4 separate regions of the Homo sapiens genome follow, and regions 2, 3 and 4 are each linked to region 1. The links come from fine-mapping of genetic effects on gene expression. A gene starts in region 1. Each other region holds a variant in brackets. All regions are shown on one strand. Distances are between the middles of the regions.

Region 1 (8,105 bases):
GTTAGATCATGGTGATGATCATACAATTTTGTAAATACACTAAAACCCACAGAATTGCATTATTGTGGCCATGTGCGGTGGCTTATGCCTATAATCCTAGCTACTTAGAGGCTGAGGCAGGAGAATCGCTTGAACCTGGGAGGTGGAGGTTGCAGTGAGCCAAGATCCCACCACTGCACTCCAGCCTGGGTGACGAGAGAGAGACTCTGTCTCAGACAAAAAAAAAAAAAAAAAGGGGCCAGGCGCGGTGGCTCACGCCTGTAATCACAGCACTTTGGGAGGCCAAGGAGGGAGGATCACCTGAGGTCAGGAGTTCGACCAGCCTGGCCAACATGTTGAAACCTCGTCTCTACTAAAAATACGAAAATTAGCCAGGCATGGTGGTGGGCGCCTGTAATCCCAGCTACTTGGAAGGCTGAGGGAGAACTGCTTGAACCCAGCAGGCGGAGGTTGCAGTGAGCCGAGATCACGCCACTGCACTCCAGCCCTGGCGACAGAGTGAGACTCAGTCTCCCCAGAAAAACAGAAAAAAAACAACAAAAAGAGTATAGTCTAGATGACTTAAGTTCTCTTCAAACTCTGTGATTCTATGTATGTAGTGAGAAATAACCATTTGATGCTTAGATACAAAAGTATTATTACATCCACAGAAAGCATTCAGATATGCATATAAGATACATGTCTACTTACACATGCATTAAGTTATCTCTGTAATGACACACGAAAAAATAGTTATTGCCTCTGGAGAAAGGAAATGTTGGGGTGAGGTTCAAGACTCAGGTAAAGATACTGATCTGCATGCCCCTTCTCCACTGTTTGAATTTAACAGTGTCTATTCCTATTCCACAAGAAATTTTAAAGTATAAATCATGAAGGTCAGAACTTAAACATGTCCTGAAGCTAGGAAACTGCCAATCTAACCCAATATGAAAAAGCATGGGCTAAACTTCGTCTAGCCAGAGAATTAAACTGTTTCAAACTATCCTGTAACATCTTTAAGAACTAAGAGTAACTAGGGCCTAAATCTCCAAACGTGGAAACTGTATGCTTTGGCAAATCACTCAGAACCAAGTGAAAGGCTCCAGCATAAACACATAAGGCTGACAGAGACCAGGGCTCCTGTCAACATGAAGTGGATGGTGGCAAAATGTGGGTCTCACTAGTAAGGTCCAAAGCACATTAATGAGGCTGGGCTCGGTGGCTCACGCCTGCAATCCAAGCACTTTGGGAGGCCTAAGTCATGGGGATCACTTGAGGTCAGGAGTTCCAGACAAGCCTGGCCAACATGATGAAACCCCATCTCTATTAAAAAAAAAAAAAAAATTAGCTGGGCGTGGTGGTGCGAATCTGTAATCCCTGCTACTCAGGAGGCTGAGGTGGGAGGATCGATTGAGCCTGGGAGGTGGAGGCTGTAGTCAGCCGAGATCGCACCACTGCACTCCAGCCTGGGCAACAAAGCAAGACTCCGTCTGAAAAGCAAAACAAAACAAAACACCAAAGTGCACTAATGAAAATCCAATGGGCAGCAGCAGCTGCATTGTAAGCACTTAAAGGACTTTTCCCTTCTGACCTAGACCAGCTTCTACAGCAGGCCAAACACTAATACATCTACAGAGTAAAAGTTTCCATTATAACGCCATTTGGAGGTAGCAGACTGGTGGCTCAGAATGGAGACTCTCCAGTCAGAGAAGACCAGGTCCAGGCATCGTACTCCTCCATTTATTGGATGTGTGAACTTGGACAAGGGTATTTCACCTCCCTGAGGTTGTACTCACTTCCTCAACACACTCAATAAGCATGTGAGTGCTTATTGCGCACAGCCACTGCGCTTTCAATTGGTGGGTGATGCGAAGGGTAGAAAAGTGGGAGTACCCGAGAGTCCTGGGAGTCAGAGAAGGCTCTTTAGGAGAGATATCCAGGCTAAAACCTGAAGGAGGAGGCAACGCTGAGATGAGGACCGTCGCAGGAGGAACAGCAAGTACAAGGGCCCAGAGTAGAGAACACGCTTGGTGCATTCAAATAACACAAAGAGGCCAGAAGCGATGGTTCACGCCTGTAATCCTTAAACTTTGGGAGGCCGAGGCGGCGGGATCACCAGAGGTCAGGAGTTGAAGACCAGACTGGTCGGCTGGGCGCGGTGGCTCACACCTGTAATCCCAGCACTTTGGGAGGCCGAGGCGGGCGGATCACGAGGTCAGGAGATCGAGACCATCGTGAAACCCTGTCTCTACTAAAAATACAAAAAAATTAGCTGGGTGCGGTGGCGGGCGCCTGTAGTCCCAGCTACTCGGGAGGCTGAGGCAGGATAATGGCGTGAACCCAGAAGGCGAAGCTTGCAGTGAGCCAAGATCGTGCAGAGCGAGACTCCGTCTCAAAAAAAAAAAAAAAAAAAAAAAAAGACCAGACTGGTCAATATAGTGAAACTCTGTTTCTACTAAAATAACAAAAATTAGCTGGGCGTGTGGCGCTCGCCTGTAATCCCAGCTACTTGGTTGGCTGAGGCAGGAGGATCGCTTGAACCCAGGAAGCGGAGGCTGCAGTGAGCCAAGACTGCGCCACTCAACTCCAGCATGGGCGACAGAGCGAGGCTGTCTCAAAAAAATAAAAATAAATAAACAAATAAAAACAAATAACAGAATAGCCAGGGAGGCTAGAGAGCAGTGAACAGAGTAATGAGATGAAGTCGCAGAGAGTGGAGGGCAGATATTTGCCTTCAGAGGCCATGGGAAAGAATTTTCATAAGTGCAATAAAGGATTTTTTTTTTTTTTTGAGACGGAGTCTCGCTCTGTCGTCCAGGCTGGAGTGCAGTGGTGCTACTTCGGCTCACTGCAAGCTCCGCCTCCCGGGTTCACGTTATTCTTCTGCCTCAGCCTCCCGAGTAGCTGGGACTACAGGCGCCCGCCACCACGCCTGGCTAAATTTTTTTGGTATTTTTTAAGCAGAGACGGGGTTACACTGTGTTAGCCAGGATGATCTCGATCTCCTGACCTCGTGATCCGCCCGCCTCGGCCTCCCAAAGTGCTGGGATTACAGGCATGAGCCACTACGCCCGGCCAATAAAGGATATTAAGCAGGAGAGGGACATGCACTCAAGGATGGAATCAGCTCAGTGCTTCAAGGAAACATGAAAGGCGCCACGCCCACCCATTAATGGAGTCTCCCGTTTCCTTTTTTTGAGACAGGCAGTCGTTCTGTCGCCCACGGTAAAGGACAATGATGCGATCACGGCTCACTGCAGCCTCGACCTCCTGGGTTCAAGCGATCCTCCTGCCTCAGCCTCCCGAGTAGCTGGGACCGCAGGCACGCACCATCACGCCCGGCTAATTGTTTAATTTTTACTTTTCGTAGAGGCAGGGTCTCCCTATGTTGCCCAGGTTGGTCTTGAACTCCTGGGCTCAAGCGATCCTCCCGCCTCGGCCTCCCAAAGGGCTCGTATTAGAGGCGTGAGCCACCGCGCCCGGCCCCGTTTTCAGGGGTTTCCCAAGGCCAGAAAGTGGACCCTCCTGATACACTTAACGGGGGGACCAATCTCAGATGCGGGGGCTAGCGCATAAAAACCAGGAGGCTGGGTCCCTGAGCTGCAGCGAGAGAAAAAAACGTTCTTCTGGAAGGAGCCGAGAGGGAAGGATTCAGCCTAGCGATGTGACAGTCGCGCTGCCCCGCGACAGGTGCCTCAGGAAACCCTCGCCTGGGTCGTCCTCAGAGCCTCTGCCTTCTATGTCTCCAAGCCGCCGCTCGCCACATCCCCGCGGGACTTGACGCCGGCACCCAGTGAACCCAACTTGCGCTCCGAAGTCTGCTCCGCTCCAGGACGCCCTCGCAGACCCCGGAGCCTCCGCTGGCGCCGGCGGCCGCTCCTTCCCGCCTGTTCCCACGTGCCCTGAGCCCCCGCTCCCAGACCGCCGCCGCTTTCTCCTCAGCCCCAGGCAGCTACCCGCCTCAACTCACGGGTTGTTATTACTCATTGTAAGTAACAAGCTGCTGAGGAGCCGCACGTTGGAGTGCAGCCCCGCGGCCGCCATGTCCCGCACGTGGTCTATCACATTCATCCTGCTCTGCAAAGCCGCGGGCAGCGGCGGCAGCACTGACTCGAAAAGCCGGTAGAGGATCCTTAGGGAAGACTCCAAAATGGCGGCGTCGCCGGGGTCCATCGGGTCCACACGCGGCACCACCCCCAAGCAAGAGGTAACTACTGAAGTGCCCGAATAAAAAGAAACTCGAGTCCCTGCTCCTGTCGTGGTCCTTTTCAGGTGAAATGAGTTGTTATTTTTACGCAAAAATCACGTTATCATCCTAAACTGCAAACTTTACTGAGGATTTACAATGAGACAAAAGGCACCTTATAAGACTACTCGGTCAATTTGAATGAGTCTGAGAGGAATTTGTGCCTCTCAGAAATTAAAATGTGTGGGTATTTACCGAAATAAAATACAGTAAGGTGAGGAAAAACGCTCCAACTGGAATTAAATATTCTAATCGGGCGCCAGGGACAGACCTAACGGCCTTTACAGTGGCGCATGCGCACCAGGCTAGGGCCGCCGCGCCCCTCCTCAGGTGTTTTGTGTTCCTGCCAAGTCAGGCTTCGGCCCTGGGGGAACTCCTTGGTTCGAGGGGTATATTTCCCCATGTAAAATTATTCCCTAGATCCGTGGAAATAAAGGCTGGATCCAGGAATTAGCTGATACCCATATAAACCAGTATGTGTCTGGCACACTTAACGTTTTAGGAAAGTTTTACACAAGTTATTGGGACGCTCACAACAATCCATAAAGTTGAAGTTGTCATTCCCTTCCCACAAGGGAAGAAACTGCCTGCTTAAATTTTGTGCTCAGGTTGTTAAATGGTTGACTTGGAATCAGATCGACTGGTTAATTATGTTGGATCGCAAACTCAAATGTATACAGGGACCAGGGAGGTAACTGAGCCAATGAGGCAGTTTAGGTCGTTGAGTCAGAGTCCGAATATTCTCCACAGTCATCCTCTCAGATCTAGCCTATCGCTCCTTTCTTAAAGGAGACAGTCGTTTTGGTCTAGATTTTGTTTTCATTTGATTTTTACAGTAGTAGATGCAAAAAAAATGCTCTGAAAAAATCACAGTGTATCTTCATCAGCAACTTTTTCAGCTCTTAACATTTTGTCACAGTTGAAGCTCCTGTAGATCCTTTTCCCATCTCATCCCCTACTCTAGTTTCCTGGATGTGTGAGACCTTCTATTTGATTTTGGTGGGCATCATCACTGTGAACTTTTCTTTTTTCTTTTTTTCGAGACGGAGTTTTGCTCTTGTCGCCCAGGCTGGAGTGCAAAATCTCAGCTCACTGCAACCTCTGTCACCCGGGTTCAAGGAATTCTCCCTGCCTCAGCTTCCCGAGTAGCTGGGATTACAGGCGCCTGCCACCACTGTCATGTGCGTCCGTGTGAAGAGACCACCAAACAGGCTTTGTGTGAGCAACAAGGCTGTTTGTTTCACCTGGGTGCAGGCAGGATGGTAGCAGCACGAGCCATAGGCAAAACTCCTCAGACACCAAGTTAAAGAAGGAAGGAGTATATTCGGCTGGGAGCATCAGCAAGGCTCCTGTCTCAAGAGCCGAGCTCCCCGAGTGAGCAATTCCTGTCCCTTTTAAGGGCTCACAATTCTAAGGGGGTCCGCGTGAGAGAGTCGTGATCGATTGAGTAAGCAGGGGGTACATGACATGCACCGGTGGTCAGAGTGAAACAGACCGGGAAGTTTCACAATGTCTTTCTATAATCTGTAGATAACATCAGTTGCTAGGTCAGGGGTCAGTTAAGGCAGGAACCGGCCCTTTTCACTTCTTTTGTGATTCTTCAGTTACTTCAGGCCATCTGGATGTACACATGCAGGCTTGGGTTCAGAGGCCTGACATTCCTGTCTTCTTACGTTAACAAGAAGAATAAAACGAAATAGTCGTAAAGTGTTGCGGCAGCGAAAATTTTTGGGGGTGGTATGGAGAGATAATGGGCGATGTTTTTCAGGGCTGCTTCAAGTGGGATTGGGGGTGGTGTGTGGGAACCTAGAGTGGGAGAGATTAAGCTGAAAGAAGATTTTGTGGTAAGGGACAATATTGTGGGGTTGTTAAAAGGAGCATTTGTCGTATAGAATGATTGGTGATGGCCTGGATGCAGTTTTGTATGAATTGAGAAACTAAATGAAAGACACAAGGTCTGAATTAAGAGAAGGAGAAAAACAGGTATTAAATAACTAAGAATTGGGAGGACCCAGGACATCCAATTAGAGAGTGCTCAAGGGGGTTCAGCATAATTACCTGCTTGGTTGGTGAGTTTTGGGGCTCTATCCTTGACAGAGTCCTTTTTAAGTTGGAGGCTGAGCTTGGTGAGGTGTGTTTTTAAAAGACCATTAGTCCATTCTACCTTTCCTGAAGATTGAGGACAATAATGGGTATGAAGTTTTCACTGAATACCAAGAGCCTGAGAAACTGCTTCGGTGATTTGACTAGTAAAGGCCGGTCCGTTATCGGACTGTATAGAGATGGGAAGGCCAAACCGAGGAATTATGTCTGACAGAAGGGAAGAAATGATTGCGGTGGCCTTCTCAGACCCTGTGGGAAAGGCCTCTACCCATCCAGTGAAAGTGTCTACCCAGACCAAGAGGTTTTTTTGTTTCCTGACTTGGGGCATGTGAGTAAGGTCAATTTGCCAGTCCTGGGCAGGGGCAAATCCCCGAGCTTGATGTGTAGGGAAGGGAGGGGGCCTGAACAATCCCTGAGGAGTAGTAGAATAGCAGATGGAACACTGAGAAGTGATTTCCTTGAGGATAGATTTCCTCAACGGAAAGGAAATGAGAGGTTCTAAGAGGAGGGCTAGCAGCTTGTAACCTACATGGAAGAGGTTATGAAATGACGACAGAATAGAATGGGCCTGTGAGGCTGGAAGAAGATATTTTCTTTGGTCCAAGAACCATTTGTCTTGTGTGGGAAGAGATTGATAGGTAGAAGTTTCAGTGGGGGAGTAGGTGAGAGTGACCAGATGAGAAGGAGAAAAATTGGCCGTGAGGGACAGAAGTTGGAAGGCTAAGCTGCTTCTTTAGCTACCTTGTCAGCGTAAGCGTTGCCCTGAGCGATGGGATCTGATGCCTTTTGATGGCCCTTGCAGTGAATGACTCCAGCTTCCTTTGGAAGTAAAGCGGCCTTGAAAAGAGTTTTTATTAAAGAGGCATTCATGATAGAGGACCCTTGAGTAGTAAGGAAACCTCTTTCAGCCCATATAACAGCATGGTGGTGTAGGATATGGAAGGCATATTTAGAGTCAGTATAAATATTGATGCGTAGTCCCTTTGCAAGAGTGAGGGCCTGAGTTAAGGCAATTGGTTCGGCTTGCTGAGAGGTAGTGCAGGGGGTCAGAGCAGTAGCCTCAATGATAGATGTGGAAGATACTATAGCATAGCCTGCCTTTGCTGGTGAGTGGCAATTAGGCCTGGTGGAACTGCCATCAATAAACCAAGTGTGATCAGGGTGAGGAACAGGAAAGAAGGAAATATGGGGAAATGGAGTGAATGTCAGCTGGATCAGAGAGATACAGTGATGTGGGTCAGGTGTGGTATCCGGAATAATGTGGGGGCTAGCCTAAAACAGTGAGGTCAAGTTGTTTGGACAGAAAGGCTACAGGGTGCGGTCCCAGCTCTTGTGCAAGAATTTTGACCACACAGCCCTGTACTTTGGCTGTGTGTAATGAAAAGGGTTGGGATGAGTTAGGGAGAGCTAGTGTGGGAGCAGCTTCTAGGGCTGTTTTTAAGGAACAGAAAGAGGAGTGGTGAAAAAATTTAGGATCTATGGAGTCAGCTAGGTTTGCTTTTGTGAGTTTATGTAACGTTTTAGTCAGGATGGTAAAACTAGGTATCCAAAAGTGGAAGTACCTAACAATGCATAGGAAGGAAAGGAGTTGTTGTTTTGTAGAAGGGATTGGGGTTTGGGAGATTAGCTGGACACAATCAGCAGGGAGAGCATGTGTGTTTTCACAAAGAGTTATGCCAAGATAGGTAATGGATGAGGAAGAAATTTGGGCTTGACTAAAGTAATGGGAGCTGTCTGTGAAGCCTTGCGGCAGTACAGCCCAGGTAGTTTGCTGAGC
Region 2 (8,105 bases), 370 kb after region 1:
AAGAATGCCCCCTATTTGTCTCTCACCTACCTGTGACCTGGAAGCCCCTTTCTTTCCCCCACTTCCAGTTGTCCCGCCTTTCTGGACCTAAACAATGTTCATCGTACATATGTTGATTGATGCCTCATGTCTCCCTAAAATGTATAAAACCAAGCTGTGCTCTGATCGCCTTGGGCACATGTCATCAGGGCCTCCTGAGGCTGTGTCATGGGCACACATCCTCAACCTTGGCAAAATAAACTTTCTAAATTAACTGAGACCTGTCTCAAATTTTCGGGGTTCACAGTACATATGGGCAGACTTGGGCTCAATGGCACTTCCATAATTATCAGATACCTGGGCTCCTTCCATCTTATTTTTATGCTATCCTCAACAGTTGTCAGCCCTCTTGAGACACAAGACAGCTGCTGTAGCACCTGCCGTCATGTGTGTATTCCAGCCAGAGAGAAGCTTGCAAAGGGGAAGCAAAGAGCATGCCCCTTAGTTTTAAGGACACTTCCTAGAACTTGTACATACCATTTCTGTGTACATCCCATTGGCTGGAAGGTAATCATAAGATCATATCACTACCACAGAGCTGCAATTGTTACCGGAAAGGAGTCCTGATCCAGACCCCAAGAGAGGGTTCTTGGATCTCGCACAAGGAAGAATTCAGGGCAAGTCCGTAAAGTGAAAGCAAATTTATTAGAGAAGTAAAGAAAAGAAAAAAAGAATGAGCCAGGTGCAGTGGCTCATGCCTGTAATCCCAGCACTTTGGGAGGCTGAGGCAGGCAGATCATTTGAGTCCAGGAGTTCAAGACCACCCTGGGCAATATGGCAAAACCCCATCTCCACACACACAAAAAAATTAGCCGGGCATGGTGGCATGTGCCTGTAGTCTCAGCTACTCAGAAGGCTGAGGTGGGAGGATCACTTGAGCCCAGAAGGCAGAGGTTGCAGTGAGCTGAGATTGTGCCATGGCACTCCAGTCTGGGTGACAGAGTGAGACCCTGTCTCAAAAAAATTAAAACAAATTAAAGGCTGGGCACAGTGGCTCACGCCTGTAATCCCAGCACTGTGGGAAGCCAAGGTGGGTGGATCACGAGGTCAGGAGATCGAGACCATCCTGGCTAACACAATGAAACCCTGTCTCTACTAAAAATACAAAAAATTAGCTGGGCGTGGTGGCACCTGCCTATAGTCCCAGGTACTCAGGAGGCTGAGGCAAGAGAATCGCTTTAACCCAGGAGGCGGAGGTTGCAGTGAGCCGAGATCATGCCACTGCACTCCAGCCTGGGTGACAGAGTGAGACTCTGTGTCAAAAAAAAAATTAAAATTAAAATAATAGCTTCTCCACGAACAGAGAAGCTGTGAGAGCTGCTGGTTGGCTATTTTTATAATTATTTCTTGATCATATGCTAAAGGGATGGATTATTCATAGGTGTTTTGGGAAAGGGGGAGGGATTTCCTGGAACTGAGAGTTCTTCTTCCTTTTAGACCAACACAAATTAAAGAAAGAGGAAAGAAACATGAAAGGTGGCTCACCAGTCAAGACAGGTTTATTTTAGAGAAAACAAACCTGAGAGGAGCTTCTGGCGAGTTGTCAAAGGCACACTCTCTTACAGACTAAGAGTTTTTAAGGATTCAGGGTGGGAGAGTTTATCAGAGGCTTGGGCTGCTTCTGTGTCTCTTTGTTGTGCTTATCTGGGAGGGAGAGTTGTGTGTTTGTTGCCAAACATCTTCCTGCAGCTGCAGGCATATCCTCTGAGTCTACTTTTAGCTTCCCTATCTTAGTGCACCTGAAGGGAAAGGAATATGCTTATTTAAGGCCCACTGTTTTACTGGGGCCCATTGTATGAGGGTGAAGTTCGGCAGTTACCTAAGAGACATTCCCCCCACATCCCTCTGTGCCCGAGCTATCTTATCTGTGTTTTACTCTCTGCTCTTTCTGGCTGCTTGTAGTTAGAAGAGAAGTGATCTCCTTGAAATGAATGAAGCTGGAAAGGGAGCTGGAACTTAAAGCAGCTTTAAGCTGCTTTAACAAATCTCTGTTTGTCAGAGATTACAGTGCTCCTGCTCTGTCAGTAGCTTCCAGACGTTGCCGTGGCATTTGTAAACTGTTGTGGTGCTGGTGGGAGTGTCTTTTAGCAGCTAATGCATTATATTAAAACACACACACACACACACACACACACACACACACACACACACACACACACACAGAGGGGTGAAGTCATTTGCTCAAGGTCACATGGCCAGGAAGCAGCCATTGCTGCTATATCTATCTATCTATCTAGACAGATATAGATAGATAGATATATAGTTTTTGGTTTGTTTGTTTTGAGACAAAGTCTCACTCTGTCATCCAGGCTGGAGTGCAGCAGCACAATCTCAGCTCGCTGCAACCTCCACCTCCCAGGTTCAAGTGATTCTTCTGCCTCAGCCTCCCAAGTAGCTGGGATTACAGGTGTGTGCCACCATACCTGGCTAATTTTTGTATTTTTACAGGTCATAAAAACCCCACTGATAAAACAGGATGCAGTAAAGAAGCCAGCCAAAACCTGCCAAAACTAAGATGACAATCAAAGTGACTTCTGGTCATACTGACTGCTCCTTATACACTAATTATAATGCATTAGCTTGGCCAGGCACAGTGGCTCATGCCTGTAATCGCAGCACTTTGGGAGGCCAAGGCAGGCAGATCACCTGAGGTCAGGAGTTCAAGACCAGCCTGGCCAACATGGTGAAACCCCATCTCTACTAAAAAATACAAAAAATTAGCTGGGTGTGGTGGTGGGTGCCTGTAGTCCCAGCTACTCGGGAGGCTGAGGCAGGAGAATGGCGTGAACCCAGGAGGAAGAGCTTGTAGTGAGCCGAGAATGCCCCACTGCACTCCAGCCTGGGCGACAGAGCAAGACTCTGTCTCAAAAAAAAAAAAAAAAAAAAAAAGAAACTAACACTTACTCTTCAAATGTAAACTCCATATTAATTCAGAGCAGGGGCTGGGCCTTGCAATGGGTAGGGCAGAGAAGCAGGTATCGAATTGTCTGATTGGTTTCTCCTCTGGCCCCCAAACTAACAAAACAACACCCCCACCCCCAAAAGGCTGTGGATGAGGACGGGCACAGTGGCTCATGCCTGTAATCCTAGCACTTTGGGAAGCTGAGGTGGGCAGATCACATGAGGTCAGGAGTTCAAGACCAGCCTGGCCAACATGGTGAAACCCCATCTCTACTAAAAATACAAAAATTAAGCTGGGCACGGTGGCTCACACCTGTAATCCCAGCACTTTGGGAGGACGAGACGAGCGGATCACGAGGTCAGGAGTTCAAGACCAGCCTGGCCAACATGGTGAAAACCCGTCTGTACTAAAAATACAAAATTAGCCAGGCGTGATGGCAGGCACCTGTAATCCCAGCTACTCAGGAGGCTGAGGCAGGAGAATCACTTGAACCTGGGCAGCAGAGGTTGCAGTGAGCCAAGATCGAGCCACTGCACTCTAGCCTGGGCGATAGAGTGAGACTCTGTCTCAAAAAAAAAAAAAAAAAAAAGCCAGGTGTGGTGGTGCACACCTGTAATCCCAGCTACTCAGGAGGCTGAGGCAGGAGAATCACTTGAACCGGGGAGGTGGAGGTTGCGGTGAGCCGAGATCATGCGACTGCACTCCAGCCTGGGTGACAGACCAAGACCCAAAACTCCGTCTCAAAAA[GA/G]AAAAAAAAAAAAAAAAAAGGGCTGTGAATGAGATGGGCTTGTATTATCCCATTGGAACCTGGCTTTTCCAGGACTTTCTTCTGACTATACTCATCTCTGAGGCGGGTCCCTGTGAATGGTTTTCTTGTCCTGTCATCCACAGGGTTAATCCCTTGAGGGATGTGTTCAGATTGCTGCTTGGCTGCTTCCTGGCTGTGTGACCTTGGGCAAATGACTTCACTTCTCTGAGCTTCAGTTTCCTCCTCTGCAAAATGGAGGTAAGAATAGTGCTTAGCTCATGCAACTGTTGTGAAGGAATGGAAGAGATAAGCAATGGGAAGTGTTTAGCCTGCAACCTCATCTTAGAGCACCTGATACAATCGAACTATCATTACCATTCTCAGATAATTTTTTAAAATAGTGTCTCCTCAAGCAACTGTTTAGAACAGCGCTATCCATTAGAAATAGAATTCAAGGCCGGGCACGGTGGCTCACGCCTGTAATCCCAGCACTGTGGGAGGCCAAGGCGGATGGATCCCTTGAGGCCGGGAGTTCGAGACCAGCCTGGCTAACATGGTGAAACCCCCTCTCAACTAAAAATACAAAAATTAGCCAGGTGTGATGGTGGGCGCCTGTAGTCCCAGCTACTTGGGAGGTTGAGGCGGGAGAATCGCTTGAATCTGGGAGGCAGAGGTTGCAGGGAGCCAAGATCTCGCCACTGCACTCCAGCCTGGGCAACAGAGTGTGTTTAAAAAAAAAAAAAAAGAATTCAAACCACATATGGACTTTTAATTTTTCCAGTAGCCTCATTAAAAAAGCTGAAGTTAATTTAAATGATATATTTAATTTAACCTGATATATTTTAAAAATGACCATTTTAACACGTAATCAATATAAAGAAAGCATTCTGGTCGGGCACAGTGGCTCATGCCTGTAATCCTGGCACTTTGGGAGGCCGAGTCGGGTGGATCACCTGAGGTCAGGAGTTCAAGACCAGCCTGGCCAACATGGTGAAACCCCGTCTCTACTAAAAATACAAAAATTAGCCGGGCACGGTGGTAGGCACCTGTAATCCCAACTACTTGAGAGGCTGAGGCAGTAGAATAGCTTGAATCTGGGAGGTGGAGGTTATAGTGAGCCAAGATCATGCCATTGTACTCCAGCCTGGGTGACAAGACAGTCCATCTCAAAAAAAAAAAGAGAGAGAGAAAAAAAAGAAAGTATTTCAAGGCTAGGTGCAGTGGCTCATGCCTGTAATCCTAGCACTTTGGGAGGCCAAAGTGAGAGGATTGCTTGAAGCCAGGAATTTGAGACCAGTCTGGGCAACATAGTGAAACCCTGTTTCGAAAGAAAGAAAAGAAAGAAAGAAAGAAAGAAAGGAAGGAAGGAAGTAAAGAAAATTAGCTAGAAGTGATTACACATACACAAGTCCCAGCTACTTGTGAGGCCATTACAGCTTGGGTGACAGAGTGAAACCCTGACTCATAGAAATAAGAAAAAAAAGAAAGAAGGAAGGAAAGAAAATGAATGAAAGAAAGAAAGAAAGAAAAGAAATTAATTTAGCACCATAGGAAAGGTTTTTTTTAAAAAAGCATGAGCTATGTTATCCTCTTTTTTTTTTTTTGTATAAGGCTACAAAATCTGGTATTTTGCACTTATATCCCATCTCAGTTCGGACAAGCCACATTTCAAGGGCCCAAAACCCCATTTGGTGAGTGGCAGCCATATTGGATAGAGACAGCCCACCTTCTCTGGTTTTGTCTCTGCAGATAGCCAAGGAAACCTAATTATGCATCCAACTCTCTGGCCCATTGGCTGAGTCACCTGCCGGGAAGCTTTCAGAATATTTATAGGTAACTGATCTACAGAAAACAGAAAGTGATACCATCTCCAGCCCCCACAACCTTTCTTCAGTCTCAAGTTTGCCGTCTCAGCTACTGTTTTCTAGAGGCCCAGTGGGAAGAGTATGCAAAGTGGCAGTAAAGTACATATGTAAACGTGTAGGCAAAAGGCTGAGAGGATTCTTACCAAACTACTCACAGTGGAAAATAAGAGTAATGTCCAAGCAGAGTTTAGTTTTGTCAGTCATGCCCTAATTTTGTTTTTGTTTTTTAGAATGTATTCATTCACATATTACTTGTGTAAGTGAAAGTCAATTGATATATATATAGAGATAATAGTAAAGAAAAGTAACCATGATTTGCGGTAAATCCCCAAGAAGTTTAATGGAAAGCAGTGAGTGCAGAGATTACAAGGTGGACTCTGGGGCCGGCTGCCTGCCTTTGCATCCTAGCCCTGCTGTCTACTAGCTGTGTGACCTTGGGCAAGGTTCTCTTGCTTTCTGGGCCTCAGTTTCCTCATCTATAAACTAAGGATAATGATGGGACCTATGTTACAAGGTTGTCACAATGATTTGATGAGCAGGTGTAAGGTGTTAAGATGGGATCTGGAACACAGAGTCTCAGCTGTAATAACTAAAATAATTAGTATTATCACTGTTTTTGGTGGAAGAGTAAGTAGCAAGAAACTCTCTTGGTGAAAATACAAGAGCTGCGGTGGCTCACGTCTGTAATCCCAGCACTTTGGGAGGTCGAGGCGGGCAGATCACTTGAGGTCAAGAGTTTGAGACCAGCCTGGCCAACATGATGAAACCCTATCTCTACTAAATATAGAAAAAATTTGCCAGGCGCGGTGGCGCACCCCTCTAGTCGTAGCTACTCAGGAGGCTGAGGCAGGAGAATCGCTTGAACCTGGGAGGCGGAGGTTGCAGTGAGCTGAGATCACGCCACTGCATTCTAGCCTGGGCGACAGAGCGAGACTCCATCTCAAGAAGAAAAAAAAAGGAAATAATATGCTGGAGTGAGAGCTGCAAGACCAGCTGCTAAGCCTGGATCTGCCATTACCTAATTTGTGTAAACTTGGGCCTCAGTTTTGTACTAATTCTAACAACAACATACATTTTCTAGTCCTTACTATCATTTCGGAACTCTACATGTCTCGTTTCATCAGATCTTCACAACACCCCTCTGAGAGAGAGATACTGTTGTTGTTGTTGTTATTATTACTATCTTGAGACGGAGTCTCGTTCTGTCGCCCAGGCTGGAGTGCAATGGCACGATCTCGGCTCACTACAACCTCTGCCTCCCGGCTTCAAGTGATTCTCCTGCCTCAGACTGCCGAGTAGCTGGGATTACAGGTGCCCGCCACCACACCCAGCTAATTTTTGTATTTTTAGTAGAGACGGGGTTTCACCATGTTGGTCATGCTGGTCTCGAACTCCTGACCTCAGGTGATCCCCTGCTTCAGCCTCCCAAAGTGCTAGGATTACAGGTGTGAGCCACCACGCCTGGTCGAGATACTGTTATTATTACCATTCTATAGATAAGGAAACCGAGGCTCAGAGAGCTGACACGGCTTGCCCAAGTCGGCAGCTTCTAAGTCCCAGGAAAGGGATTTGAACTCAGTGTTGTCTAGCCGACATGAGAGGCTGAGGCAATGCTCTCTGCACCATGCAGCCCCATGTGTGAGGTCTTTTCCAGCTTTGCTTTGTCTGTGATGCTGGCAGTTGAGTTGCATGATAAGAGCTAGGAGTTTGGGGTTGGAGTACAGGTTCTTTTGAGCTTTTGGACCCTAGAGTTCTTTCATCTGTATAATGGGGCCAAGAACAATGCAGTGCCCTGAATTTGAGTTTTGTATTTGCTTTTGTTTTTGTTTTTTTGAGACAGGGTCTTGCTGCATCGCCCAGGCTTGAGTGTAGTGGTGTGATCTCGGCTTACTGTAACCTCCACCTCCTGGGTTCAAGCAATTCTCCCACCTCAGCCTCCTGAGTAGTTGGGATTACAGGTGCCCACCACCATGCCAGGATAATTTTTGTATTTTTAGTAGAGAAGGGATTTCATCATGTTGGTCAGGCTGGTCTCGAACTCCTGGTCTCAAGCAATCCACCCACCTTGGCCTCCCAAAGTGCTGGGATTACAGGTGTGAGCCACCATGATTGGCGCTGAATTTGAGGGTTTTCTTTCCAGCTCTCTCCAGGGCTTTCTTTAGACTTTCTTCCTCATTTTGTCTCATCTTTCCAAACACCTCACTCACAAGATCACTTGAAGATCACAGGAAGCCAGTGGAAGGTATCTGAGATGATTAAACAGCACCAGGTTTTTTAGCTATGTTATGTAAGAAGAGGAAAAGAGGGAAGTTGCAGGGGAAGAAATTTGAATCAGATTACATTAAAGGATACAAGTGGGGCTTTCAGACAATGGTGACTTTTGCACAGGGTCTCATGAGGCAACACACGGGGGCACACACCTGCGTGTCTTCATGTAGATATGCTGTGTGAGACACCCCCGCAGCGGATGTTCTGGGGGAAAACAAGGAAGCTGTTAAATGATCCAGCTGTTCTGTCTGAATACGTTGCACATCTGGTGGCCTGGAAATCT
Region 3 (8,105 bases), 240 kb after region 1:
TTTTTTTCAAATTCTACCCCCAAATCTTGAAATAACCTGCATATAATGCTACTTCTTGATTTTTTTGGTTTTATGAATTTTTTATTGTTTCCATTAAGGAAGACAAAGGTTTGGCTCTTTCCCCTTCATCCCCTACCTCATGACCCACACACTTCCCACATCTTCCCAGGGTCATTGGATCATTATTTTGGTTAGACCAATATTTACCATTTACTTATATTATTTTTTGAGACAGGGTCTCCCCCTGTTGCCCAGGCTGGAGTGCAGTGGCGTGATCAGGCTCACTGCAGCCTTGGCCTACAGGCTCAAGCAATCCTCCTGCTTCAGCCTCCTAATAGCTGGGACCACATGCGGGTACCATCACACCTGGCTAATTTTTAAAATTTTGGTAGAGACAGGGTCTCCCTTTGTTTCCCAGGCTGGTCTCGAACTCCTGGGCTCAAGTGCTCCTCTTGCTTCAGCCTCCCAACATGTTGGGATTACAGGTGTGAGCCAGCACATCCAGCCACCATTTACATTATTAGTTCTGATCCATTTAGACCAGCATTTCTCAAAGGGAGAGGGTTCCATGGAATACATTTCCACAAGACATCAGTAGGGGTAGGTCTGTGGTCCAATACGTTTGGGAAACACCAAATTAAAGTTAAAACAATGGTTCCTTCCTGTATTACTCATCAGAGCCTTTAATAGGCAAATGTGCCTCAGGAGGGACATGGGGATGTGGAGGTTCAATGCTTCCCCAACTTTGGCCATGAAACCCTTCTTGTACAGATCTTCAGTGGAACACAGTTTGGGAAACACTGTTTTAGACTCATCATCTCACAGGTAAAGATTTTGCAAAGTTAGAGACTCTTTAGCTTCTGTCAGATAATCCCTCATTTGGAGAATGAGAAGATAATGAAACTGGGAAGGAATGGAACTGCTCGTGGGGCTGAGAGCAGTGGCTCACGCCTGTAATCCCAGCACTTCGGGAGGCTGATGTGGGCAGATCACCTGAGGTTGGGAGTTCGAGACCAGCCTGGCCAACATGGTGAAACCCCGTCTCTACTAAAAATACAAAAAAATTAGCCAGGCATGGTGGTGGGCACCTGTAGTCCCAGCTACTCAGGAGGCTGAGGCAGGAGAATCACTTGAACCTGGGAGGCGGTGGTTGCAGTGAGCCAAGATTGCCTCACTGTACTCCAGCCTGGGCAACAGAGCAAACTCCATCTCAAAACAAAACAAAAAAACCAAAAATCAAAACTTAAAAAACAAAAAACTGCTGGTGGGCTGGGTGTGGTGGCTCACTCCTGTAGTCCCAGCACTCTGGGAGGATTGCATGAGCCCAGGAGTTTGAGGCTGCAGGGAGCTATGATGGTGCCACTGCACTCCAGCTTGGGCATCAGAGTGAGACCTTATCTCAAAAATAAATAAACAAAGGGAAGGAAAGGAAGAAGAAAATGAAAAACTGCTGGTGGATGAACAACAGCCTCATTCAGTTGACTTCTTTTTCCTTCACCAAGACTGACTGGAGCTCTCCCGTGTCAGCTCGTAGCACAGAAGGTGAAGAGCCTGCTGTGGGGCCAGGGCTTCCCAGATTACGTGGCCCCTTTTGGAAATTCCCAGGCCCAGGACATGCTGGACTGGGTGCCCATCCACTTCATCACCCAGTCATTCAACAGGAAGGTAAAGGGGAGAAGGTACAGGTTCCATGCTAGTGGTCTCTGTCTTCCAGGTGGTGTGATGAAGGCAGCCGGGGAAGCCAGCTGTTAAGGAGGCAGGATGGCCCTGAGTGGGAGCGCGGGCTGAATCTTGGATACTGATTTTTGCCCCTTGTTAGCAATGTTGCCTCTGGCCAGCAGTTTTATGGCTTTGAGCCTCTGTTTTCATCTGTGAAATGGGAACGCTAGTCAATAGTGAGTGAATGGCCTCATGGGGCATTGAGAGGGTTAAGTGAGGTAACATTTATGTGGCCCTGGGCATGGTGCCTAGTGGTCCATAAATGGGAACCTCTGTGATCCTCATCCTGTTGCTACCATCATTGTGATTGCTGGTGTCCCCCGAGCCCTCTCCAGGCATCTCATGACACGATAGACGAATGTTGAGTCCTGTATCAAAGACTGAGACTGACTTCCGTGCATGTGGCTCTCCCACCCATTGTCCCCTGTTCTACACAGGCAGCCCACACCTGAGAGTTTTCACTGCCACAGTTCCTCACAGAGTTGAATGGAAGTTGACAATCCTACAGATAGGTTCCCGGTCACACATGATGCTTCTGCCCACCTTTTTCTTTTGTCTTAGCAGTCAGCGTGTGGGCCGGCCCTGGCCCAGGGGCGTGCTCTCCATCTTAGCCTGTAATTGCCCAGCTTGTTCTTGTCACGCTTTCTTCAGACCTCTCATTATCCGCTCCGAATATTTCTAGCATGGGCATAACGGGGGTGAGGACTGCTCACTTCTCTGATCCGCCCTCCCACCGAGGCCAGCAGAGACCCGGGATTACTCAGTCCCTGCCGTTCCACTGCGAAGTCTTGACTCAACTCTCCCACCAGAACCAGGCACATCGCTTCTGGCTTCTTGGCCATGGGTGAAGATGTGCAGTTATTACTCCTCCTCAGAAGGGAAGACATGGGTTGGGAGGAGAGGCAGCAGTGCGCACATGGCACCGTCAGGGTCTGTGCTGATCCTGGGTGCTCAGAGGGCCTGCAGCAGCAGGTTTTGTACCAACTCTGCCGGCAACCCAGGTAGAGGCAGGCACGAGCACCTGCTAAACTCAGTTTCCACCAGCTGCATGCTGCATTGTCTCCTAAGAACAGGGTATTCGAGAGGATTGTTCAGTCTGCATGGTTTTTAAAGGCGGTTCCAAGCTAAGGAATTCCATCAGTGCTTTTTTCGCAGCCACCAAATTTAGCAGGCCTGTGAGGTTTTCATATCCTGAAGAGATGTATTTTAAAGCTTTTTTTTTTTAATGAAAAAATGTCAGACACACACAAAAGTAGAATAGTACCATGGAGTCCCCACGTACCCAGCCTGCAGCTTCAACAGTTACCACATTTGCCAACCGGAGAGACTGCCAAGGCAGGAAAAAGCCCTGGAAAGCCCACGGCCCCTTTTTCCCTTGGGTCAGAGGCCTTAGAGCTGGCTGCCAAAGCAGCCAACCAAAGGGGCAGCTCAGCTCCTTCGTGGCACCAGCAGTGTTCCTGATGCAGTTGAAGAGTTGATGTCTTTGACAACATACGGACACTGCCTGGATTACCTAGATGTCACATCTTAATTGCCAATTGATGAAATTAGGTAAATGAAAAGAAAGCACTTAAATTTCCCCTTAGAGCATTTTAACATGACATGCAATCAGGTTTTGTCTGCTAATAATTATTTCTCCCCCTCCATCCCTCCCACCAGTTTCTTTCCTGAAGTCTGTGAGGCCGCTATAAACAGGTAGATGAAGTTAGAGCAGTTATGGCCCTAAATGGTCCACAGTTGGGTATTGGCACTACCGCAGTTTCAGGTGATGTCGGCATTTTTAGAAATAGGAGGAGATGGAAAAATTACGCTTCAGCTGTTAAAAATATTTTTGGGGCATTGAGTTACTTTAAAACACGTATATTCTCTAAGCTGTTTTTATCTGAACTTGTAGAGTCTATTCATTTTCTTGTTCAGAACATTTTGTAATATGTGAAACCTTTTATAATTAAAACTCTGAACTGCAGATTAAGTCTGACTTGCAGTTTTGTAAGATTCTAATGGATTAACAGCATTTTGTTTTGCAGGATTCCTGCCAGCTCCCAGGGGCTTTGGTTATAGAAGTGAAGTGGACTAAATACGGATCCCTGCTGAATCCACAGGCCAAAATAGTCAATGTAACTGCAAATCTAATTTCATCCTCCTTTCCTGAGGTAGGCCTAACCTAGTTTAAAGGCATAGGTTAAGACAGAAGTCTAGACACAACTCAAGTGTGGTAGGTGACAGGTATTACTTTGTGAAAAAGATTATAATTTAAACCATGGGGGTTCATAAAATATTTCAGCAGTCATTCTTAGAAACACTGACGATGGTTCTACTTACATTAGCATTCTGGTTCAGATTGGATCTTTAAAATTCTCATGAAAATTATGATATTCACGTGTTAATCAGACACCCTGGTAAAATTGTTTCTCTCATCCAAGTTAATGGCCAATTAGTGCTCCAGGACCTATCAGATTCATGAACTGACAGTAGTTGGGTGAGGAAGAGAATGAAAAGTGTCTCATTGTTGTCATTCTGGGAGCACACTGGAGGGTGGGCCTTGCATCTCTCTGTTTATTACAGGCCAACTCAGGAAATGAAAGGACGATTCTTATTTCCACTGCGGTTACTTTTGTGGATGTGTCTGCACCTGCAGAGGCAGGCTTCAGAGCTCCACCAGCCATCAATGCCAGGCTGCCCTTTAACTTCTTCTTCCCGTTTGTTTGACGTAAGTGAGGAAACTACGCCCCTCCTCTGAGGTCATCCCCTTTGGAAAGTGTGCACGTGGGGCTAGAAGTCCCTAGGGGATACTGCATTTTATACTTTTTGAGGGTCTCGCTTTGTTGCCCAGGCTGGAGTGCAGTGGTGTGATCATGGCTCACTGCAGCCTTGACCTCCTGGGCTCAAGCAATCCACCCACCTCAGCCTCCTAATAGCTGGGACTACAGGTGCA[C/T]ACCACAACACCTGGCTAATTTTAATATAGTTTGTAGAGATGGGGTCTTGCTGTGTTGACCAGGCTGGTCTCAAACTCCTGGGCTCAGGTGCTCCTCCTGCCTCGGCCTCTGAAAGTGCTGGGATTACAGGTGTGAGCCACCATGCCTAGCCTTATTATACTTCTAACCTTTGAGGTTGCCTCCAAACCAGCACACTGCCCTTCTCCACTCCCTTCCTGCCTTTTTTCCTTTTGGAAATGTTATTCTATCTGACTTTTGAATGGGGAATATGCTTAACACATAGGTCATAGATGATAGAACCCAAAAAGTCTTTGGGGAGATGGTAAAGAACATGAACAGGACTTGAAGCAGCAGAGGCAAGGGGGATTTGGCCAGTTCATTCATCCCCTGCTTTGAGTTATTTATTTTAAAAATACTCAGTTCAGGTTTTTTCCTTTTTGGGTCCGGTTGAAATGAGTACAAAAAAATAGCAAAATATTAGATAAAATCATGCGAGAAGAGCACACAGCCCTTACAAGGGGATCTTCCCCCAAATACCTTGTTAATTATAGTGGAGTCTTGGGTCTAATTGCCATTTCTGCACCAGGCACTGTAGCTAGCTTGCTCTCCGACTGGCAGGCTGGTATGGGTGCCACAGAGGAAAGAATACAGTAGGAGGGTCCAGGGAAAAGAGAGAGTTTATTTTATACAGTAGTTGTTTTATTTTATACAGTAGTTGTACAGTAATTGAGGAAAAATGTTGTCAGGTGGCAGAAAACAATGGAGCCACCTAGAAGCTGGCTGATGCAGCTGGGGCACACAGAGGAGGGGCCTGGGTACCCCTTTTGGGGAAACTGAGACGAAGCTATTTAGAACAGCTTGAAAATAAGAGACTTTTCTAGAATGGGGTGGCAGCTAAAGTAGCTTCTTTTTCTTTCTTTCAGAATGCTCAGATGCATCAGTTCCTTAATATACACGTGAAATTTGAAAACTGTACATTCGGTGAGATTAAATTTTATATACAACTAGCAATTGTCCAGCTTTGTTGCTCATTTTCAATTAAGGCTAAAGTGTTCAACATGAGAAAATGTGATACATTTGATACAGTGTGGGGTGGGAGTGGATGGGCAGCTCTTGGTGGTACTGGACCTTCCACAAGGCTGTGTCCACCCAGAATCCATGCTGGCAGGAGGGAGGCAGAGGTATCAAACCAAACCTCTCACCAAGCGGCCCAGGAGGGGCAGCTGTTCCTCTCGTGACAGCACAGGCCCATGAGACAGTGTCTTCTTTTTGAGGGGAGCTGGTCCGGGTCTAGTTCACTTCACCAAGAAGTCCATGCTGTCGCAATAGTTTGTTAAGTCTTTCAATTTCTTGTTCCTATTGCAAAAGCAGACAAACACTGGAATTTACTTTGAGCCTCGCCAGGGATGTGACAATCAATCATTCAGTGAGCCCCAGGCACAGGACCACAGAGATGAATGAAAGCTACGCTGTTTGTGGCATTCAGTCTGCTGAGGAGACTGCTACAATCAGATAGGCTTCACTGAGCAGCAGTGACAGCAGTGAGAAGACAAACGTGGGGGACCTGGCAGAGCCCTGGGATGTGGGGGTGGGCACAGCTTCAGGGAGGATGTGACGCCTGGGCTGGATCTGAAAGGACAAGGCAGGCTCAGCCCAGGGAAGGGCGCTCTAGGTGCATGAGCAGCGCTCTGCTGCAGGCGGGTGCTGCGGCAGAGGCCAGCTTCCCAGATATCTTTTTTTTTTGAGACAGAGTTTTGCTCTTGTTGCTCAGGCTGGAGTGCAATGGCGCGATCTTGGCTCACCACAACCTCCACCTCCCGGGTTCAAGCAATTCTCCTGCCTCAGCCTCCTGAGTAGCTAGGATTGCAGGCATGTGCCACCATGCACAGCTAATTTTGTATTTTTAGCAGAGACAGGGTTTCTCCATGTTGGTCAGGCTGGTCTCGAACTCCGGACCTCAGGTGCTCCACCTGCCTTGGCCTCCCAAAGTGCTAGGATTACAGGCATGAGCCACCACGCCTGGTCCCCAGATGTGTCGTCTTTCTTACCTTCTCAGAGCAGCTGAACTCAAGGTGTTGAATCTTGGCGGCCAATTGTACATTCATCTGTTTTAACCTTAAGAGTTGCCGTTCTGAACGTGTCTTAACTGAGATGATAATCCCTGAAATAAAATTGGGGGTCTCAGTGATACTGGTTTCTAACTTAACCACTCAGGAAAAAAATCTGTATTCTTACACCTGTATAGAGTTTGGAGGAGTGGTGACAGACACGCGAGACAGTCATCACTTTAGGGCATCAGAACTGGGAGGTCAGGGTTTTGTGTCTGAGCTACTTAGTACCCAGTTACACAGTATCTCTCTTTAGCTGGCATGGCTGAGAAATCCTTAAAAATAATCACTGACAAGATGAGCATTAGGATTCTTAACCTAGAACCTGTTCACAATCATGTGGGTGCACAACAGCGGTGTCCATAGATGCCACGAAAGCACAGGCTGGGAAATGCCCCCTTTCCCCATAACAGGCATCTTCTGTAGGAACTGAAAGGCTTTTTTTTCTTTCCTTTGACAAGAGTCCAGTTTTTTTTTTTTTTTTTGAGATGGGGTCTGGCTCTGTCACCCAGGCTAGAGTGCAGTGCACAATCTTGGCTTATTGCAGCCTCCAAATCCTGGGCTCAAGCAATCCTCCCACCTCAGCCTCCCCAGTGGCTGGGACTACATGTGTGCACCACCACACCCAACTGATGTTTGTATTTTTTGTTTTGTAGAGATGGGGGTTTCACCATGTTGCCCAGGTTGGTCTCGAACTCCTGGGCTCAAGTGATCCTCCTGACTCAGCCTCCCAAAGTGCTGGGATTACAGGCATGACCACTGCACCCAACCTGTTTCATTTTATTTGCTTGACGTAAACCTGCTTATAACCAGCTCCTAAAGGGCTGAAGAGGAAGAAGGGAGGAGAGGGAGGTGAGGGGGCAGAGGGGAGGCCTCCATAACAGGAGCCACTGTGAGCTCAGGCACCCAGAGTGACTGCGCAGTCAGGCCTTGGATGTATGCCTGGGCCCCTACTCTCCATCCACAGCCTGGGAGTGCAGGAGACGTACCATTGATGATCCGGGCCACCCGCCACAGCCGGAGCAGAATCAGCAGGCCCAGAGCCTCAAACTGGTGCTCCTGGAACAGGAGGACAATGTCGAGGATGAATGAGACCACCACCACGACGGCATCCAGGATCTCAAACTTGTGGTGAAAGAACTCCAGGCGGAAGACAAATAATTTAAAGATGATCTCCATCATAAAAAAGACCAAGATGGTGATGCTCATGTAGTGGAATACCTGAAGGGGACAAGGAACCACAGTCAGGGGAGATTGGGCCTCTGGGAGGTCAAGCTGCCCTCACATGCACCTGCCTGGTCACCAGCAAGAGAATTCCTCTGGTGGACAAATCCAGATGCCC
Region 4 (8,105 bases), 450 kb after region 1:
GTTTCCCCATCTGTAAAATGAGGATGGTCAAGTGTATCCAAAACACTTCATATGAATCATTTGGAGGCAAGGCCTGACATGTAGCTGTTCATAATCTATCCTTATCTTACTTGACATGAATATTGATGTTTCCTTGCAGAAACAGTAATTCGTTTGATCTGGACTGTGTGGCCCGAACCCTGTATGTAATATACTGTCCCACTGACTTCCCTCATGGTTACAACGTGGCTGCCAGCAACATTAGGGGCAACATACTCCCTTGCGTACCATATTATCTTTCTGAAACCAAAAACATGGTAAGTTCTTTTTTTTTTTTTTGAAACGGAGTCTCACTCTGTCACCCAGGCTGGAGTGAGTGTGATCTTGGCTCACGGCAACCTTTGCCTCCTGGGTTCAAGCAATTCTCCTGCCCTAGCCTCCCGAGTAGCAGAGACTACAGGCACCCACCGGGTGTGTGCCACCATGCCGGGCTAAATTTGTTATATTTTTAGTAGAAATACAAAAAAAAAAAAAAAAAAAAAAGAAATACACAGGGTTTCACCATGTTGGCCAGGCTGGTCTTGAGCTCCTGACCTTAAATGATCTACCTGCCTCAGCCTCCCAAAGTGCTAGGATTATAGGCATGAGCCAGCGCACCTGGCCTCCAAAATATGGTAAGTTCTAAAACACACATCCTGTCCCAAGAATTTACGGATGAAGTGGAGACCTTAGCAGGGCTGAGCTACTACAATCCACTCAGGGGGCTAGGAGTTAAAGTGGAAATCACATGGAATCAAAATTACTGTAGAAAACAGGTACCCCCAATAATTTTCCATTAATTCTGTGATTGTTTCTAGAGCTTAGCCCCAGAGAAAGTAGTTGACTTGTGTTTCAGGGCCGATTGTATGAAAAATGTGTATCTTTAAACCACTAAACTCCGTTAGGGCAGTGAAAAGCTCACTTGCCTGGATCACACTTGGGTTCCCGTGTTATGCTCACAGTGGGTGGGGGTCAGGTGGATGTTCTGAAGAAAATTCTCCTGCACTGATGAAGTTATTTTTCTCATGAAATATCTCTTTCCCCCCCCGCCCCAACATTTTTTTTTAATTTATTTTTACTTTATTTTATTTTTCAGAGTAGAAAAAACTGGGCTCCTTTGAGTTAGCTGCGTGTGAAGTCTGTACCTAGCAGGGCTGCTGTGAGCATGAGTGTAGGTGTAGGCTAAGAAGACGGTGAATGGGGTGTGAGTGGGGCGAGGTGGACCAGCGATTGCATGGCGTTGGCCGAGGGAGGGGCTAAGACTGTTGATTGACTCAAGAAGTCACTTAGCGTCATGAGGGTCCGGGTAGTCTGGTAAGGGGTCGCTGGAGAGTGTGTCGCCCCTCTCCCCCAACCAAAAGCTTCCCTCCAACCAGCTGCTCTTGTCCTCTCCTCCCGAGGGCCCTGTGCCCTCCCAGCGGACTTGCAGGGGAGAACGTCCATGTTTGTGCGAGTCACAAAGGCGCCCGTTCCAGGGGTCCCAGAACGCCCGGGCGTGGGGCTGGGGGTGTGGCGCAGCGAGGCCGCGCAGCAAGCAGTCCTCCCGGCACCGTCGGAAGCGCAGTTGCAGCAGCCGTCGGACAAGCGGCCGGAGCAGCCACGGACAAGCAGTCCGGGCCCCGCCACTGGTAAGTTTCGCCGCCCGCCCGGCCGCGCCTGCTGCGCCACAGCTCCCCCTGCCAGGGAAAAGGAAAGAGCGGTCGCGGTCCCCAGTCCATTCATATCTCGCTGCCCTAAGCGTTGAAAGTATCAGGGTCTCCCGCAATCATGCATAAATAAATTGTAGTGTGTAAAATAACTCCAGAGCCGCGCGAGGTGGCTCATGCCTGTAATTCTAGCACTTTGGGAGGCTGAGGCAAGAGGATCGCTTGAGCCCAGGGGTTCGAGACCAGCTCGGGCAAATTCGTCTTTACAAAATATTTAAAAACTTAGCCGGGCGTGGTGGTGCCACCTGTAGTCCCAGCTTCTTGGGAGGCTGAAGGGGGAGGATCGCTTAAGCCCGGGAAGGTTGAGGCTGCAGTGAGCCGAGATTGAACCACTGCACGCTAGCCTGGGTGACAGAGAGAGAGAGAGACGCTCTCAAAAAAGGAAAAAAAAAAAGTTCAACAAATTTTTATTTTCCTCCCATAATAATCCTTAAAAAACAAAAAACAAAACAAACAAACAAAAAACAAGAAAAACAACAACAACAACAAAAAACTGTGTATGTGTTTCTGTGCTCCTGTTTGGCTAGTGCCCTAAGCACATGTTTAATTCCAGGTTGTGCAGCCCTGGCTCAATATGATCCACATAGCTGCCTGTCCCAAGGTCCCTAGGGAATCCTTCGGGGGCAGGCTTGTCTTTTAAAGGCAGGTTGTTAAAATTCAGAAGCAGATGAGGTGCAGGCCTAATTAGATATTAGATAAATGAAGATGATCTCTGCCTGGAGGAAACTTCATTCATTCAAACTGTATTTGCCAAGAGCTGCCCATGCGCCCAGGACTATGGATGCTGTGGTGAATAGACTGAGGCCCAAGGGGCAGGAGGCCCTTGCCTGACGTCCCCTGACCTGGGCTGCTGGGCTTCTCTGCACTTTTCCTCGCACACGCTGTTCCCCAGAAGTGGGCAGCTTTTAGATTCCTAACAGGAACTGCAAATTCAAATTCCTACTGGCTCTAGGCAGTTACAGAAAATGTGAGAATTGTGGGGAGGGGAGCTTAGCCAATAGGGAGGAGTGGGGCCTGTGGCCAGGAGAGTGAGTGCATGACCCACATTTATGTTTTGAAACACTGTGGAACAGAACTGGAGGTAGGTTGAATTGGCCCCATGGACTATGAGTTTCAGACCCTTGAATGAGAGGGTGGTAAGCCAGGGGTCAGGACATCCAGGAGATGCTCTGCAGGCCAAGCTATGAGGATGGGGGTGAGGGGGTGGATCTGTTCCCCAGGGAATGTAGGAGCCCATCCCAGAGGGCACTGATCGAAAGGGAAAGGCCTGGGTTAACATCTGGAACCTGAAGAGAAGCCAGCACCCTAGGGGAGAGTGACTATGTATGCGCATATGGATCAGCAAAAAGGCAGGAGGTGATGGAGCTTTTGGTTCCTGGAGAATGGTGCATAACCCAGCCAATGATCTCATGGGCCAGACAGACTGGTACTTGAAAATCCCACTTCACAAACAGGCTACGTTCGCCCAGCGTCTGTCATGAGCTAGGCACTATGCTAACCACTTTACAGACATTATTTTGCGCTGAGATATGGGTGTGGGTATCCCCATTCTACAGATGAGGAAACTGAAGCTCAGAGAGGTCAAATCACACTGTCAGTGAAGGTCAGATATACCCAGTTCATGTTATTAAGATGGTGCATTACAAATCCACTTAGGACCCAAAGGGCCCTGGAACATAGAACAGCTCCTGGACAATATGAAATTGGAGCTGCCCCAAATTCCAGGGCTGAAAGAGGTCCCAGAGAGAGCATCCTGTGCCCAAACCTTGTTAGTCAGGTAAATCCTCCTACAGCTTCTACTCCTACCTGGAGGACCCTTCCAGAAATGATCAAGATACAGAACCATTGTCTTATACCACTTCCCTGCCTGTGGGAATTTCCCAACATCAGACAATTCAGTTGGCCCCCAAACCCTCAAAAACATCAGGGAAAATCCAGAGGTTCCTACATTACCAGCCACTATTTTCCTATCACCCATTAACCTGAGAACCATTTTCAAGGTATGGACCATGTCAGTTAGGAATGCTTTAGGCTTCAATGAACAAAATATTTGGTGACTGCCTTAAACAACAGTGACTCTTGCTATTTCACCTAACATGATGTCTAGAGGTAGGCAGTTCCAGGGATGGGGCAGTAGCCAACAGTGTCAGTTAGAACCTAAATTTTTTCCTGTCTTTCCTCTTTGCTGTCTTTAGGTGTGACGGTGATATTTCTCTTCATGGTCATGGGAGGGTTGCCACTGAACCATCATGCATGCCTTCACAATAATTTCTAAAAGCAGAAGGAGAGAGGAACACGAACAAGCTCTTATTTC[C/CT]TTTTTTTTTTTTTTTTTTGAGATGGAGTCTTACTCTGTTGCCCAGGCTAGAGTGCAGTGGTGCGATCTCAGCTCACTGCAACCTCCATCTCCCAGGCTCGAGTGATTCTCCTGCCTCAGCCTCTTGAGTAGCTGGGATTACAGGTGCCCACCACCATGCCCAGCTAATTTTTGTATTTTTAGTAGAGACGGGGTTTCACAATGTTGGCCAGGCTGGTCTCAGTCTCCTGACCCCAAGTGATCTGCCTGCCTTGGCCTCTCAAAGTGCTGGGATTACAGGCATGAGCCACTGCGCCCGGCCCAAGTTCTCACTTTTTGTCCCAAAGGAATGGAATATACTTCTCCTTATGTCTCATTGGCCATATCTGGGTCACATGTCTATCATTAGACCAATCATTGACAAAGGGAAGTGGGGTTACCATGATTAGCAGGAAACAATCATGAGTCATCCTCTGGGACTGGGCACATTGAAGGGGTACAAAATCAGATTTGTGTTAGGCAGAAAGAAGTTAGGGTATTCTCTGAGGCATGCTAGCTGCTATAACAAATACATCCCCACATTTCACTGGCTTAACACAACAGAAGTTAATTTCGCATTTGTGTAACAGCCCAATGAGGATGTTCATGGTTGGCAGATGACTTCTTCTACAAGTAGATCTGGGGACCTGTCTTGTGGCTCTGCCTCCTGTAAATGTCAGATGAGGCAAGAAAGGATGGAAAGGTCACATCCACTTCTTAAAAGTCATGATCTGGAAGTGACAGACTTCCCCTCTGCTCACATCCCATTGGTGAGAATTCATCAGAGAGCCCTGCCTGGATCTGAGAGGAGCAGGGAGGCGAAGCCCTGGTTGGGCAGCTAACTCACACAACAATGCCACATGGAGGGAAGCGACTGTTGGGGAGGCAATGAACTGATCTCTTCCAGGCTGATCTATCTCATCCTTGCTTTTAAGAAGCATCCAGGCTGGACGTGGTGGTTCACGCCTGTAATCCCAGCACTTTGGGAGGCCGAGGTGGGCGGATCACCTGAGGTCATAAATTCGAGACCAGCCTGACCAAAATGGTGAAACCCCGTCTCTACTAAAAATACAAAATTAGCCGGGCATGGTGGTGCATGCCTGTAATCCCAGCTACTTGGGAGGCTGAGGCAGGAGAATCGCTTGAACCCGGGAGGCAGAGGTTGCAGTGAGCCGAGATTGTGCCGTTGCACTCCAGCCTAGGCAACAAGAGCGAAATTCTGTCTAAAAATAAGTAAATAAATAAATAAAAATAAAGAGCAGCGTCCAGTCTTTTACAGATCTCTTTGCTAGCCACTTTCCACTAGATACTGCCTATACTTGAGCGCAAATCGTTTTCTGAACACTCCTTTCAGTCACTTCCTTCTCACCCTTTGCCCGAGCAGTTCTCTCTGCCCAGAATACGCCCCCAACCTCCAACTTTTCTTCTCTGCCTGGTGAACTCCTATTCATTCCTCAAAACCCAAGTTAAAAGTCATCTTCTTTGTGGAGCCTTTTTTACTATTTTGTCATAGGCAGGATTTATGGCACTTTGCAGGCTGACTTACCACTGAATTCCACAGTGTGTAGCATACAGTGGGGGCTCAGTTTATGTGCTAAATAGATGTAAGTACTTCAGGTATGAGAACTCATTTGGTTGCAAGCAATAGAAAATGCATCTCAGGTTGCTTTAATGGAATATACTGATTTCTGTAATTGGACATTACCCAGAGGTATGTTCAGGCTTGGCTAAATGCTGGTGCTTGCTTGGATGATGTTCTCAAGCCTCAAGATTCAGTCTGTCTTCATTTTGTCTTCTCTCCTCCATTTTAGCTTGGTTCTCAGCCTCTTGCAGAGGCGAGATGGCTGTCAGCCCCTCCTGACCTTATCCACCGAGGTTCAAGTGCAGCAGGAAACAAAGTCTCTCTCTTCTTGAGTGTTCCAGCTTAAATTCCACCATTCACTCTGGTTGGACTAGCTAGCTTCATGTGCCCATCCACCCCCGAAGAAATCCCAGGCTAGAGGGCTGAGATCATGCAGATTGACTGGGATCTGGTGCTCTGATTCTCCCATCCAGAGTCGGATGCCCCAATCTTGAAGGTGGTGGGGTATGGTCAGCCCCCAGGAGTGCAGGAAGGTGTGGCTTCCCATGGGAACTTCAGGGTATTGTTACCAGGAGATAGAGGAACACCCCTCTCACCCTCATCAACATTCACCACCCTGCACCTTCGCCCTCTGAAACAATCCATATCCTGCCATATCATCCTAGCCACTGTGTACTGAGCACTTACTACGTCCCAAGCACAGTGCTGAGTGTCTTACACACTCAATGACATGGCTTCTAGAATTTCTCCCATTTTCCAGGTGAGGAAAATGAGGACTACAGAACTGAAGTGGCTTGCCCGAGGTTAATAAGTGGCTTTGGAGGAATTTGAAATGAGATCTGATGATTGGCACAACCAATGCTTTAAACCATTGCATTGCAGGACCCTCAATGGTGGCAAAGCTGGAATTTCTGCTTTTGGAACCCAGCTCCTGCAGTCTGGAATTGGCTGTGCAGTGGGTCTCACAACCTCAAAGGATGTGATGTGTGGGATTAATGCTGTCCCTTGCTCTGAATAACTATGGGCTAGATGAAGTTCAAGTGGTGACATGATAAGAATACTGACTCCTGCTCTAAGATGGGAGGGTGGGGATTCCCTGACAGCTGCAATTGAAGTTGGGCACATTTCTATTTAACCCCATCAGGGGACACACTGCCCCGATGCCTTTTTTTTTGTGAGATGGAGTCTCACTCTGTCACCCAGGCTGGAGTGCAGTGGCGCGATCTCGGCTCACTCACTGCAATCTTTGCCTCCAGGGTTCAAGCAATTCTCCTGCCTCAGCCTCCTGAGTAACTGGGATTACAGGTGTGTGCCACCACACCTGGCTAATTTTTTTGTATTTTTTGTAGAGACAGAGTTTCACCATGTTGACCAGGCTGGTATCGAACTCCTGACCTCAAGTGATCTACCGACCTTGGCCTCCCAAAGTGCTGGGTTACAGGCATAAGCCACCATGCCCGGCCCCCTGATGCCATTTTGCCCCCTCTTTGGGTACACAGGGAGCAGGAGGGTAACTGACACGCCAGAACCATCTGCCCAGCTCCTAATAATAAATGGTGAGAGAACCAGGTTCCAGGCAAACATTGCTTTAAAACAAATAAGTGCCTTTTGTCACACCCGGGCAGCCATCTGGGTATCCTCCTCATGTGCCAAGGTGTGGGTGGAGGAAGGGATGGCAGGGGGAGGGAGGAGGTGCCGTTCTGACCTGCACCCCCAGCAGGGGTGGCTTACAAGTTCTCTTCCTTTTGCCACCATGAACAGGGCATTGCAGAGAGACAGAGAGAGAGAGGAAGGCTCACTGGCTTTGAGCTCTCTGGGTACAGTGTCTGAGTGGAGGCAAAGTGCGGTTCCTTCAAGATGTCTGTGGTAGGTGATGCCAGCTCCCAGCCACAGAGCACCTACTATGGGGTCAGGCACTGTGCCATCCACTTTACACGTTAGCTCGTCTCATCCTGACAAACAGATCTGTGCTCACCCATTTTGTAGGTGGGAGGCTGGAGGCTCAGAGACATCCAGTGACTCACCCAAGTTCCCACTAGATGGCACAGTCAGAGTTTGAACCCAGAACCCCAAAGAATACCCTCCCCTCACCACAGTATGCAATTACAAGTCAGTCATCTCTCCACCCTAGCAAGCCAGGGTGGGTTTTCCATGTAATAGACAAGCAGCTGACATCACCCAAGGGAAGGTCTTCCACTTCTAGCCATGGCCCAGCCACCCCCACTGCCCTTCACTCTTAAGCCCATCTGTGGGCTTCTCTAGCCACCTGGCCCACTACGGCCTCCCACTCCTCTCCATCTCCCCCAGTTGAAGAAGAACAGGAGAAAAGACTCCGACACTCCCCAGGAACCTTCGGAGAAGGCCAAAGAGCAGCAGGCGGAGGCAGAGCTCCGGAAGCTAAGGCAGCAGTTCAGGAAGATGGTGGAAAGCCGGAAGTCTTTTAAGTTCCGAAACCAGCAGAAGATTG

Which allele goes with the higher level. Alleles are on the strand shown, and positions count from the first base shown. SD is a standard deviation of normalised expression in the study named. Not every link is listed here.
With allele G in place of GA in region 2, the expression in skeletal muscle of the gene that starts at base 4,131 in region 1 is lower (large effect, 1.1 SD a copy in FUSION).

The links. PIP is the estimated chance that this variant, and not a neighbour inherited with it, causes the effect.
Region 2: its variant is fine-mapped to the expression of ANAPC7 in skeletal muscle (FUSION, PIP 0.95).
Region 3: its variant is fine-mapped to the expression of ANAPC7 in subcutaneous fat (GTEx, PIP above 0.99).
Region 4: its variant is fine-mapped to the expression of ANAPC7 in whole blood (INTERVAL, PIP 0.94).

Annotation. Positions count from the first base shown.
Region 1 is chr12:110,399,578-110,407,682 of GRCh38, forward strand. ANAPC7 (anaphase promoting complex subunit 7) reads right to left here and starts at 4,131. Exons shown (of 11, transcript NM_016238.3): 1 at 3,950-4,131. The coding sequence starts at 4,050.
Region 2 is chr12:110,771,115-110,779,219 of GRCh38, forward strand. No RefSeq gene overlaps it. Among named protein-coding and RNA genes, the nearest start is that of PPP1CC, 32 kb to the left of the region's middle. RefSeq lists an enhancer at 5,344-5,683. The variant GA/G (reference allele first, on the strand shown) is at 3,689.
Region 3 is chr12:110,643,465-110,651,569 of GRCh38, forward strand. TCTN1 (tectonic family member 1) reads left to right here. Exons shown (of 15, transcript NM_001082538.3): 12 at 1,503-1,665; 13 at 3,732-3,872; 14 at 4,285-4,429; 15 at 5,579-5,966. The coding sequence ends at 4,428. It overlaps HVCN1 (hydrogen voltage gated channel 1), which reads right to left. Exons shown (of 8, transcript NM_032369.4): 6 at 7,753-7,984; 7 at 6,704-6,816; 8 at 5,222-6,011. The coding sequence ends at 5,946. Among named protein-coding and RNA genes, the nearest start is that of TCTN1, 33 kb to the left of the region's middle. RefSeq lists an enhancer at 4,540-4,599. The variant C/T (reference allele first, on the strand shown) is at 4,655.
Region 4 is chr12:110,845,460-110,853,564 of GRCh38, forward strand. It overlaps CCDC63 (coiled-coil domain containing 63), which reads left to right and starts at 1,528. Exons shown (of 12, transcript NM_152591.3): 1 at 1,528-1,646; 2 at 7,400-7,504; 3 at 7,946-8,105. The coding sequence starts at 7,496. RefSeq lists an enhancer at 7,490-8,105. The variant C/CT (reference allele first, on the strand shown) is at 4,039.